Homo sapiens: one gene and its partners. The protein of the gene in region 1 purifies or fractionates together with the protein of each later gene. This does not show direct contact. Each region holds a gene or a part of one and is shown on either strand. Other genes may lie near its edges.

What was found.
Region 2: the proteins of NEMF (region 1) and COPB1 fractionate together in Homo sapiens (co-fractionation; one large-scale study listed by BioGRID). This does not show direct contact.
Region 3: the proteins of NEMF (region 1) and POLR1B fractionate together in Homo sapiens (co-fractionation; one large-scale study listed by BioGRID). This does not show direct contact.

The regions. Positions count from the first base shown.
Region 1 is NC_000014.9:49,797,145-49,800,802, reverse strand, and holds part of NEMF (ribosome quality control complex subunit NEMF), read left to right. Parts: intron 1-106; coding exon 107-383; intron 384-1,124; coding exon 1,125-1,167; intron 1,168-1,278; coding exon 1,279-1,328; intron 1,329-3,658. UniProt on the Homo sapiens protein: Key component of the ribosome quality control complex (RQC), a ribosome-associated complex that mediates the extraction of incompletely synthesized nascent chains from stalled ribosomes as well as their ubiquitin-mediated proteasomal degradation.
Region 2 is NC_000011.10:14,459,387-14,461,944, forward strand, and holds part of COPB1 (coatomer subunit beta), read right to left. Parts: intron 1,946-2,558; coding exon 1,800-1,945; intron 912-1,799; coding exon 822-911; intron 1-821. UniProt on the Homo sapiens protein: The coatomer is a cytosolic protein complex that binds to dilysine motifs and reversibly associates with Golgi non-clathrin-coated vesicles, which further mediate biosynthetic protein transport from the ER, via the Golgi up to the trans Golgi network.
Region 3 is NC_000002.12:112,545,385-112,549,042, reverse strand, and holds part of POLR1B (DNA-directed RNA polymerase I subunit RPA2), read right to left. Parts: intron 3,379-3,658; exon of another isoform or gene 3,121-3,378; intron 2,032-3,120; coding exon 1,864-2,031; intron 1,623-1,863; coding exon 1,476-1,622; intron 1-1,475. UniProt on the Homo sapiens protein: Catalytic core component of RNA polymerase I (Pol I), a DNA-dependent RNA polymerase which synthesizes ribosomal RNA precursors using the four ribonucleoside triphosphates as substrates.

The DNA of each region.
Region 1 (3,658 bases):
TTGGAGAAATATGGGAGAAACAGTGGAATATTTTTATGACATTTTTAGGAAATCACCTGGCTTGGTTGGTAGTCCCACACTGACTTTCCTTATGATAATTCTACAGATGGAGGTGACACGAGCAGTGATGAGGATAAAGAAGAACATGAAACTCCTGTGGAAGTAGAACTCATGACTCAGGTTGACCAAGAGGATATCACTCTTCAGAGTGGCAGAGATGAACTAAATGAGGAGCTCATTCAGGAAGAAAGCTCTGAAGACGAAGGAGAATATGAAGAGGTTAGAAAAGATCAGGATTCTGTTGGTGAAATGAAGGATGAAGGGGAAGAGACATTAAATTATCCTGATACTACCATTGACTTGTCTCACCTTCAACCCCAAAGGTAATTAAAAAATAAAATTTTACATATTATTGTGTAAGCTGAGAATGATGATGAGGTAATCCTTACAAAGATAATACCAAGATTGACATCAGTACTTTTACACTCCATTGTCTTAATACTTTTTCAACATTTGATTGGGTCTCTCTGCAAAGAAATTCCCAGGACCAGGGTAGAAAAATACAGTGCATATAGAGTGGCCAAACTAGATCCAAATAGAAACAAGTAAATGGTTATAAATGCTAAAAACATAACAAAGGCAATTCCATCAAAGAAATGTGTTTTAGTCTATATAATGTTTTGCAGATCATCAGGTGAATAGTCCATAGTTATAAATGCATAATTAACTTAGGGGTAATTCAGAACAGTCTAGGAGTCAGACAGACCAGTATTGGGTCTTAGGGTGCGTCCTTGGGAAAATTACTTTGTGCTTAAGCTTCAGTTTCCTTCTTGGTGAAAACAGAATGGTATCCCTTTCATAGGGATTTGGTGAAGGTTTCATGCGTGTATACCATCTGGCAGTGCCTGACACACAGTAAGTTTTCAATACACGTCACCTATTTAAAAATGTATATGGAAGTGTGGAGAGAGGAGCAATTTGGTTGTATGTTTTTCTCACTTCACCAAATTTGAAAATTTGTTGGATTGCCAGTACTTAAGAGTATGATATGGGAATGTTTTGGGACTTTGTAAATGCATGTCTTTTACAGGCTAGTAGAGACTCCCTTGTGTTTATTTTCATAGGTCCATCCAGAAATTGGCTTCAAAAGAGGAATCTTCTAATTCTGTAAGCTATTTTCAGTTTTATGAAGAACATCCGATTCTCAGTGAATAATTTTCTACTTTTCAAAAAAGTTAATAGTGATATTTGCATTTGCCTGTTTTTTTGTTTTAATAGAGTGACAGTAAATCACAGAGCCGGAGACATTTGTCAGCCAAGGAAAGAAGGTAAACACATCTGTGTTAATTAACTAAAAAGCATGTTTTTCTTTTTTTTTTAATTGATAGCTCAGCTACCACAGATTACTTAGCTGTTTAAAGACTTCCTTCATTAAATTTACCAAGATTTAGCACAAATGTTTAGTTTTTAATATTAAGCTCTAATACATTTTTCTGTTTAAGGGCCCTAATCTATAACTATAATCAATGAAATAGACCTAGTAGAGTAAGTCCTCACTTAACATTTTCCTTTTTTTTTTTTTTTTTTTTTTTTTTGAAACAGGGTCTCGCTTTGTTGCCCAGGCTAGAGTGCTATGGCGCAGTCATGGCTCACTGCAGCCTCAAACTCCCAGGCTCAGGCAGTCTCCTGCTTCAGCCTCCTGAGTAGCTGGGACTACAGGCGTGTGCCACTACAAAAATTTTTATAGTTTTTGTAGAGACAGGGTTTCATCATGTTGCCCAGGCTGGTCTTAAACCCCTGGGCTCAAGTGATCCTCCCACCTTGGCTGCCCAAAGTGCTGGGATTACAGACATGAGCCATTGTGCCCGGCCTTCACTTAACATTTTCTTTTTTTTTGAGATGGAGTCTCGCTCTGTCGCCCAGGCTGGAGTGCAGTGGCATGATCTCGGCTCACTGCAAGCCCCACCTCCCGGGTTCACGCCGTTCTCCTGCCTCAGCCTCCCGAGTAGCTGGGACTAGAGGCGCCCACCACCATGCCCGGCTAATTTTTTGTATTTTTAGTAGAGACGGGGTTTCACCGTGTTAGCCAGGATAGTCTCGATCTTCTGACCTCGTGATCACCCGCTTTGGCCTCCGAAAGTGCTGGGATTATAGGCATAAGCCACCGCGCCTGGCCCACTTAACATTTTCAATAGGTTCTTGGAAACTTGGACTTAAGGGAAACAGTGTGTAATGAAACCAGTTTTGCCATGGGCTAATTGATATAAACAAGAGTTAAGTTCCTCTGGCATATTTTTGGTCACAAAACCATCACCAAGCTTCTAAATAAAGACTGAAAACTCTTCTAATATTAAACGTTAAAATAAATGTAAACTGTATGTATATTTAAGAAAGATGAATGAAAGCGAGCAAGATAATTATTTACCCAATTTTTGGTAAATCAATGAGTGATGGCAGTTGTAGTGGTAGTGGGTTAAATCAAGGATTATTTGCAAAGTGAAAACTATAGAGTACCTCCTACTACCATGAGGTTCAAAAACAAAAATGTGGCACATTCATTAAACACTTTCATACTACATTGTTGATTGTTATACATTTGTATGACTATAGTTTATGAATTTTTGACAATCATTTTTATTAAGTCATTCATTCATTCATTCATTCGTTTTTCAACCGCTTATTCCAGTTAAGGGTCATTGGTGGCTAGAGCCTATCCTGGCAGGTCAGGGCAAAAGGCCAGAACCAACCTAGAACAGGATGTCATTCTGTTGCAGGGCACACATACCTGCACTCATTCATGCTGGGATAATTTACACACACCAGTTAACCTGACATGCGCATTTTGGGATGTGAGAGAAAACCTGAGTACCTGGTGAAAACCCACAAAGACATGGGGAGAACATGTAAACTCTGCACAGATGGTAGCCGTGGCCAGGAATCAATTTTGTTCTCATCAAAGTTATAACACAATGATGTTGAATGAAATGATGTTATTTGAGGACTAGCTCTAATAAGACCTTTTATTACATAAACATGTACAATAATGATTTCAGTGTATTACATAGACTAGTTCTAGGGTGATATTGTCAGGAATAAATATGAATACCTGAAATTAGGAAAGTTTTATGTAAGGCAGAATAGTTGATTTTTTGTTTTTTGTTTTTTTTGAGACGGAGTCTCGCTCTGTGGCCCAGGCTGGAGCGCAGTGGCTGCGATCTCGGCTCACTGCAAGCTCTGCCTCCCAGATTCATGCTATTCTCCTGCCTTAGCCTCCCGAGTAGCTGGGACTACAGGCACCCACCACCACGCCCGGCTAATTTTGTTTTTGTATTTTTAGTAGAGATGGGGTTTCACCGTGTTAGGCAGGATTGTCTCGATCTTCTGACCTCGCGATCCACCCGCCTTGGCCTCCCAAAGTGCTGGATTACAGGTGTGAGCCACCGCGCCTGGCCGATTTTTTTTTTTTTTTTAATAGCAGGTCTCAGGAAGCAAGTAGAAGCAAGGGAAGGGCGGAAGGGAAGGGAACAACTACTGTAGGGTGGGAAAGACTAAGCAAACTAAAGCACTCCAGGAAGAGGCCCTAGAACAGAATGGACAATAAAGCCTTTTCATTTGAGAAACATAATCATTGAACAATTACAGAGAATTCTGAGCACAT
Region 2 (2,558 bases), on another chromosome or scaffold:
ATTTATAAAATGAATATTATAACATTATAGAAATTTTACATAAAGAAAAAAGTTCCTTAGAGCTCCAGCTTCATTTTTCTTTCTCTCTCGTTTTTTTCATACATACACAAACATAGCAAAAAGTCACAGTATAACAACGATTCTGTATTTGAGCACATATATTTTAACCAACAATCAGAGCCCACGGAAGAGCTCATGGACATTTTCTAATCCAGTATTACAAATAAACGATTTTATTTATCTTTTTGAGACAGAGTTTCACTCTGTCACCCACGCTGGAATGCAGTGGTGTGATCTCGGCTCACTGCAACCTCCACCCCCTGGGGTTCAGGTGATTCTCCTGCCTCAACCTCCCAAGTAGCTGGGATTACAGGCACGTGCCACCACACCTGGGTAATTTTTGTATTTTTAGTAGAGATGGGGTTTCGCCATATTGGCCAGGCTGGTCTCAAACTCCTGACCTCAAGTGATCTGCCCGCCTCAGCCTCTCAAAGTGCTAGGATCACAGGAATGAACCACCATGTGCAGCATAAACTACTTTAGAATGTGCCTCTAGCTGAATGGGGGAGAAGATTGAAAAGAAAATAAAAAAAAAATTAATCTGACTATTCAGTTGGGTCACTGCACTAGGAAAAAGTAGGATGGTATAGTCCAATAGAAAGAGGTAAGCAGATTCCAACATTCTATGGGATAACATCTTTTAGATAGCCTAGAATGGTACTGCATATTGAATAACAAAAATGTGCTAGAGGAAATACAGGAAGGCCAGGAACCTACTCTACCATTCCATCAGATTTCTGAATTTCCTAGTCAAATTTTACCTTTTCTGGAGTCAGGCATTTCATATTGGTTGACTTTAATATGTGCTGTAAGTAGTCATTTAAATCAACCATGTTGGTGTTAACTGTCACCTGTAGAGAGGAAAAAAAAGTCAAGGAGATCATAAATCTTACTATGAGAAAGCTGTGAATCACCAGTATGTCATATTAAAAACTTGTTCCAACTGTTTAGGTTGGAAAGAGTAGACACCAAGAAACTAAATAACATCTATAAAATCCAACAAGCTGTAGGTTGGTATCAGTACTTCCCAATAGAGATAACTTCACAGAGATTCAATATGAAGCATATAGAATATTTCTTTTTTTTTTTGAGACAGGGTCTCACTCTGTCACCCAGGCTAGAGTGCAGTGCGTCATTTCAGCTCACTGCAGCCTCAACCTCCCATGTTCAAGTGATCCTCCCACCTCAGTCTCCGGAGTAGCTGGGACTACCACACCGGGCTAATTTTTGTATTTTTTGTAGAGATGGAGTTTCACCATTTTGCTCAGGCTGGTCTAGAACTCCTGAGCACGAGCAATCTGCCTGCCTCAGCCTCCCAAAGTGCTGGGATTACAGGCACGAGCTACCGTGCCCAGCCTCATATAGAATATTTCTAATAAAAGTCAAGGCTCAAAGGGACAAAGTTCCTCAACAGACCATGAACTTTGTAAAGCCTTTTTCGGGCACTAGATTAAATGGTAAGCTCTTGGTCATACATAGAAGGGATGGAATATTACCTATAATGTCTAAACCTATCAGATTGGCTATAGAACTGCTACTCTAATCAATTTATAACAGCAAATTACCAAACTACTTACATGATTTTTAGTTAAGGCTAATTTGCAAGAACAGATACTGAAAGACTATTTGCTTTTCATGTTAAACACTTTTTAGCGAGATTAATTTTATTAGCAGACTCCTCAACAGCAGGCAAAAGGAAGAAAGATAAAGGAATATGAGAAAATCTCCCAAGGACTAACTTTGTTTTCCCATTCAAATTCGGCCCACATCTGACGGAATTCTGCATCAGTGCAAGTTGCAGGCTGGATATAGTCCATGATGTCGATGTGAATATCACTGAGAACCACACAATTTCTGTCACTTGCTGCTCCAGAGACATCATAAACTGCAATTACATATACAAAAAGATTCGCAATCACTGGGGCAAACTTGAATTTAAAAAATCTTAATATCCAAATATCCAAAGAACTACACTATTAACAATAAGATTGTTTATATAATACTTATTATGTACAGAGCTCTATTCTACATGCTTTATAAATATTACTGGTTTAATACTCCCATCAATTCTGATAGTATTATTATTTTCCATCTTACATATGAGGAAATGAAAGCAGAGAAGTTAAGTAAGTTGTTCCAGATCACACAACTGATAAGTGGTGGGGATAGGATTCGAACTCAGGCACACTTTGTTTTTTGTGGTTAAACAAATAATTCAATTCAGTGAGTACTTACATAGCAGTTGCAGCATACTAGGCACTGCAGCAGATATACAAGTGGACGATGTTCCCATAGGAGGTACTTAACTAATACTTTTGAATAAATATTGCTGACCCATACTACTTAATGATACAAGATTAGTCATCCCTCAGTATTAATGGGGAATTGCTTCCAGGACCCCCTATGGATACCAAAATCTACAGATGCTCAAGTCCCTGATATTAAATGGCATAGTATTTGCATTACCTATACACATCTTCTCATATATTTTAAATCAT
Region 3 (3,658 bases), on another chromosome or scaffold:
AGAAAAACAGGGTACTTCTCTTTATCAGACAGGCTCAACCTATCTTGCCTTTCTGTCCCCTAAAATGACTTCAGTCTTCAAATAACACTAAAAAAAACTTACTCCAAAGAGGTGTTGAAAGATAAAAACTGGGCCGGGCGCGGTGGCTCACGCCTGTAATCACAGCACTTTGGGAGGCCGAGACAGGAGCATCACAAGGTCAGGAGATCAAGACCATCCTGGCTAACACGGTGAAACCCCGTCTCTACTAAAAATACAAAAAATTAGCCAGGCGTGGTAGTGGGCGCCTGTAGTCCCAGCTACTCGGGAGGCTGAGGCAGGAGAATGGCTTGAACCCAGGAGGCGGAGCTTGCAGTGAGCCAAGATTGCGCCACTGCGCTCCAACCTGGGTGAGAGAGGGAGACTCCGTCTCAAAAAAAAAAAAAAAGAAAGATAAAAACTGTAACCATTTTGCTTCCATACGAGTATGGTTTCCCAAATACGTTCAAAAACTTGATTGTATGAAAGCTCTGGAAACCAGAAATTTGGATTAGCTAAATAGAAAAATATTTTTAATAGCTCTGCTCAATATCACATTTCTGTAATAAACAGCTACTATTTACGAATTGCCTACTATGAAACAGGCATATTATAGTAGGTGCTCTATGTTATCATAACATTTAATTCTCATAACAATGAGTGGGGTAGCTATTATACCCACTTGCAGCAGAGGAAACTGAGGCTCAGGGAGATTAACTTCCCCAAACCACAAGACTGATAAGCGGAAGAGCTGTGTGTCAAACCCAGATCTGACACCAAAACCCTCTTCCCACCACATAACACCATCTACCTATTTAGTAGGCACTGTTTGTTCATCTTGATTACCTCAACTCAACTCTGCAAAGCCACCTAATATAGCTGAAAGAAATGATGAAGGGAATGCATATAAGTCATTTAATATGCGCACAGAATCTTACTGTTAGCAAAGCAGACATTTTTATTTCACTTTTTTAGTGACGGGGTCTCACTCTGTCTCCCGGGCTGGAGTGCAGTGGCACAATCATGGCTCACTGTAGTGAGGCCTCCTGGGCTCAACTGATGCTCCCGCCTCAGCCTCCCAGTTAGCTGGGACTACAGATCCATGCCACCACCATGCCCAGATAAATAGACATTTTTGACAATAGCTTTGTGGATTAAGACAGCTTGAAAAAAAAAACAAATTTTGTGGAAGTATGTCTCTATCATTCAGAAAATTAGGGAAAAACCTACCAGTTCTTCCCCCCGAACAATAATATTCTCTAATTTTACAGCCACTTTTTCATACTGTCTAATTTGATAGTTATTCAGAGCCATACACTGTATGCAGGCAAGATACTGATATCTCTTTCACCTATCCAGAAATTGGAGCACAGAAAGAAAACACTGACACACTTCTTGTCTTCTTACTCCCAACCCAGGCCTTCTCTACTGTCTCATGCCTGGACGCCCGTCATTACCTCTGCCTCCTCATGGTGCTCAATGAGGGCTTGTGGGGGAAGGTTACGTAAGTTGCAAAGCTTGGATTTCACCATGATGGGAACATAGCCAAGAAACTGCTTAATGATTCCTTTTGAGATTCCATTCACTGCCCAGTTGATATCAGCCTAAATGAAAACAAGAGAAAAAGTTACTTAACAGAAATATCTGCATTTACGAGAACAAATGAGTATTTTCAAAGACTGAGGAAGAAGATCAATTAAATTATTTTATGCCTTAGATTTAGAAGGTGGGATCTCTTAGACAATAGCACCAAGAAAGCAATTTCTGGCATAAACTTTATTAGGCACCCGCCCTACTCCCAAATATGTGCAGTGTTGAGAGTCACACAGTATCACTAGTACTCACTGTCAACTTCCCACGGTAGGTACTCCTTCGGCCCCGGCATTCTGCTGGATAAACATTGGCCTCTTTGCAGATGGTCCCTTTTGGAACTGTAGGTGGACTGATAACAGCATCCAGAATAGTAAAAGAGATACGCTCATCTTTGAAAGCAAATTCAAAGGGAGGTATAGCCTGAAATGCAATTCACACTATTAAATTGCTTGCATTTCCAAGGCATTTTTTCTCTAAGACTCTTCCAAATCTTATGTGTTCTACAAACATTGATGCCTGTGATGCCACCATGACACACCTAAAAAGGACAGTTAAGGCTACCTCCAGTTGGCCGGGCGCAGTGGTTCACGCCTGTAATCTCAGCACTTTGGGAGGCCGAGGTGGGAGGATCACAAGGTCAGGAGATCGAGACCATCCTGGCTAACACGGTGAAACCCCATCTCTACTAAAAATACAAAAAAAATTAGCCAGGCGTGGTGGTGGGCGCCTGTAGTCCCAGCTACTCGGGAGGCTGAGGCAGGAGAATGGCGTGAACCCGGGAGGCAGAGCCTGCAGTGAGCAGAGATCACGCCACTGCACTCCAGCCTGGGCGACAGAGCGAGACTCCGTCTCAAAAAAAAAAAAAAAAAAAAAAAAAAAAAAAAAAAGCTACCTCCAGTCTACTCATAACTTCACTAAATACTTAAAACCACAAAGCATTATTAGTACAAGATTGTTTTGAGTGACCACATGTGTCAGAGACTGTAGTAGGCTCTAGGGATACAGCTGTGAACAGAACAAAATTCCTGTTCTCTGAACCAAGAGCCTTGTGTATTCTTAACTTGTCTATGTGCATAGCAAGACAAATGGGACTACTGCTAATAGAGCAAGGATACGGAAACATCCTTTAGGATTTAAGACTAGATGCTTAATGTACAATGGCAACGTCAAACTGAAGCCAGAGCCATGCAAAGGAAAAGATGGTGGCCAGGCTGGGTTTCCCCTTCCACAGAAGTTACTTCTTTGTACCATTCTGTAGGGGAAGCTTTGCTGTTCTGAGGAAGGGGCATCACCAAGCTCTCCTATATATTAATTACAAGCAACCTCCTAGACTTAGTCTTAGAATAATGAAAATGAAAAAATGGAACCAAGAAAGAATACCAAGGAGGTTCTCCACCTTCACGTGAGTTAACTTACCTTTTCTAAATTTTAAAATGTTATCTAAAGCTGGTATTATTTTAGAAATTCATATTTTATTTAAAAATAAAAGCCAGATGCAGTGGCTTATACCTGTAATCCCAATATTTGGGAGACCGAGAGAGGAGGACTACTTGAGCTCAGGAGTTTGAGACCAGGCTGGGCCACATAGGGAGACCCCGTCTCTACAAAAAATAAAAATAAAAAAATTAGCCGGGCATAGTGGTGCACGCCTGTGGTCCCAGCTACTCAAGAGGTTGACGTGGGAGGATCACTTGATCCTGGAAGGTCGAGGCTGCAGTGAGCTATAACCATGCCACTGCATTCCAGCCTAGGTGACAAAGTGAGATCCTGTCTCAAAAAAAAAAACAGAATGAAGTTAAAAAAAGAGAGATTAGACAATTTGCTTTCTCAAGACGCAGCTGCACTATTTAGAAGGAAATACAGTGAACTGTCATTATTCATAATAGTTATGTTCTATACAGTTGCCATAAACACTGAATTAGCCAATACTGAACCACTGCTCCTAGGGTAAATACATGGTTAGCTTCCTGCGAGCCTCTGGTCACATTTCATCAACTGATCAACACACAATCTTGTATTATGTGTGTTTCTGTTTAAGGACAGCTTA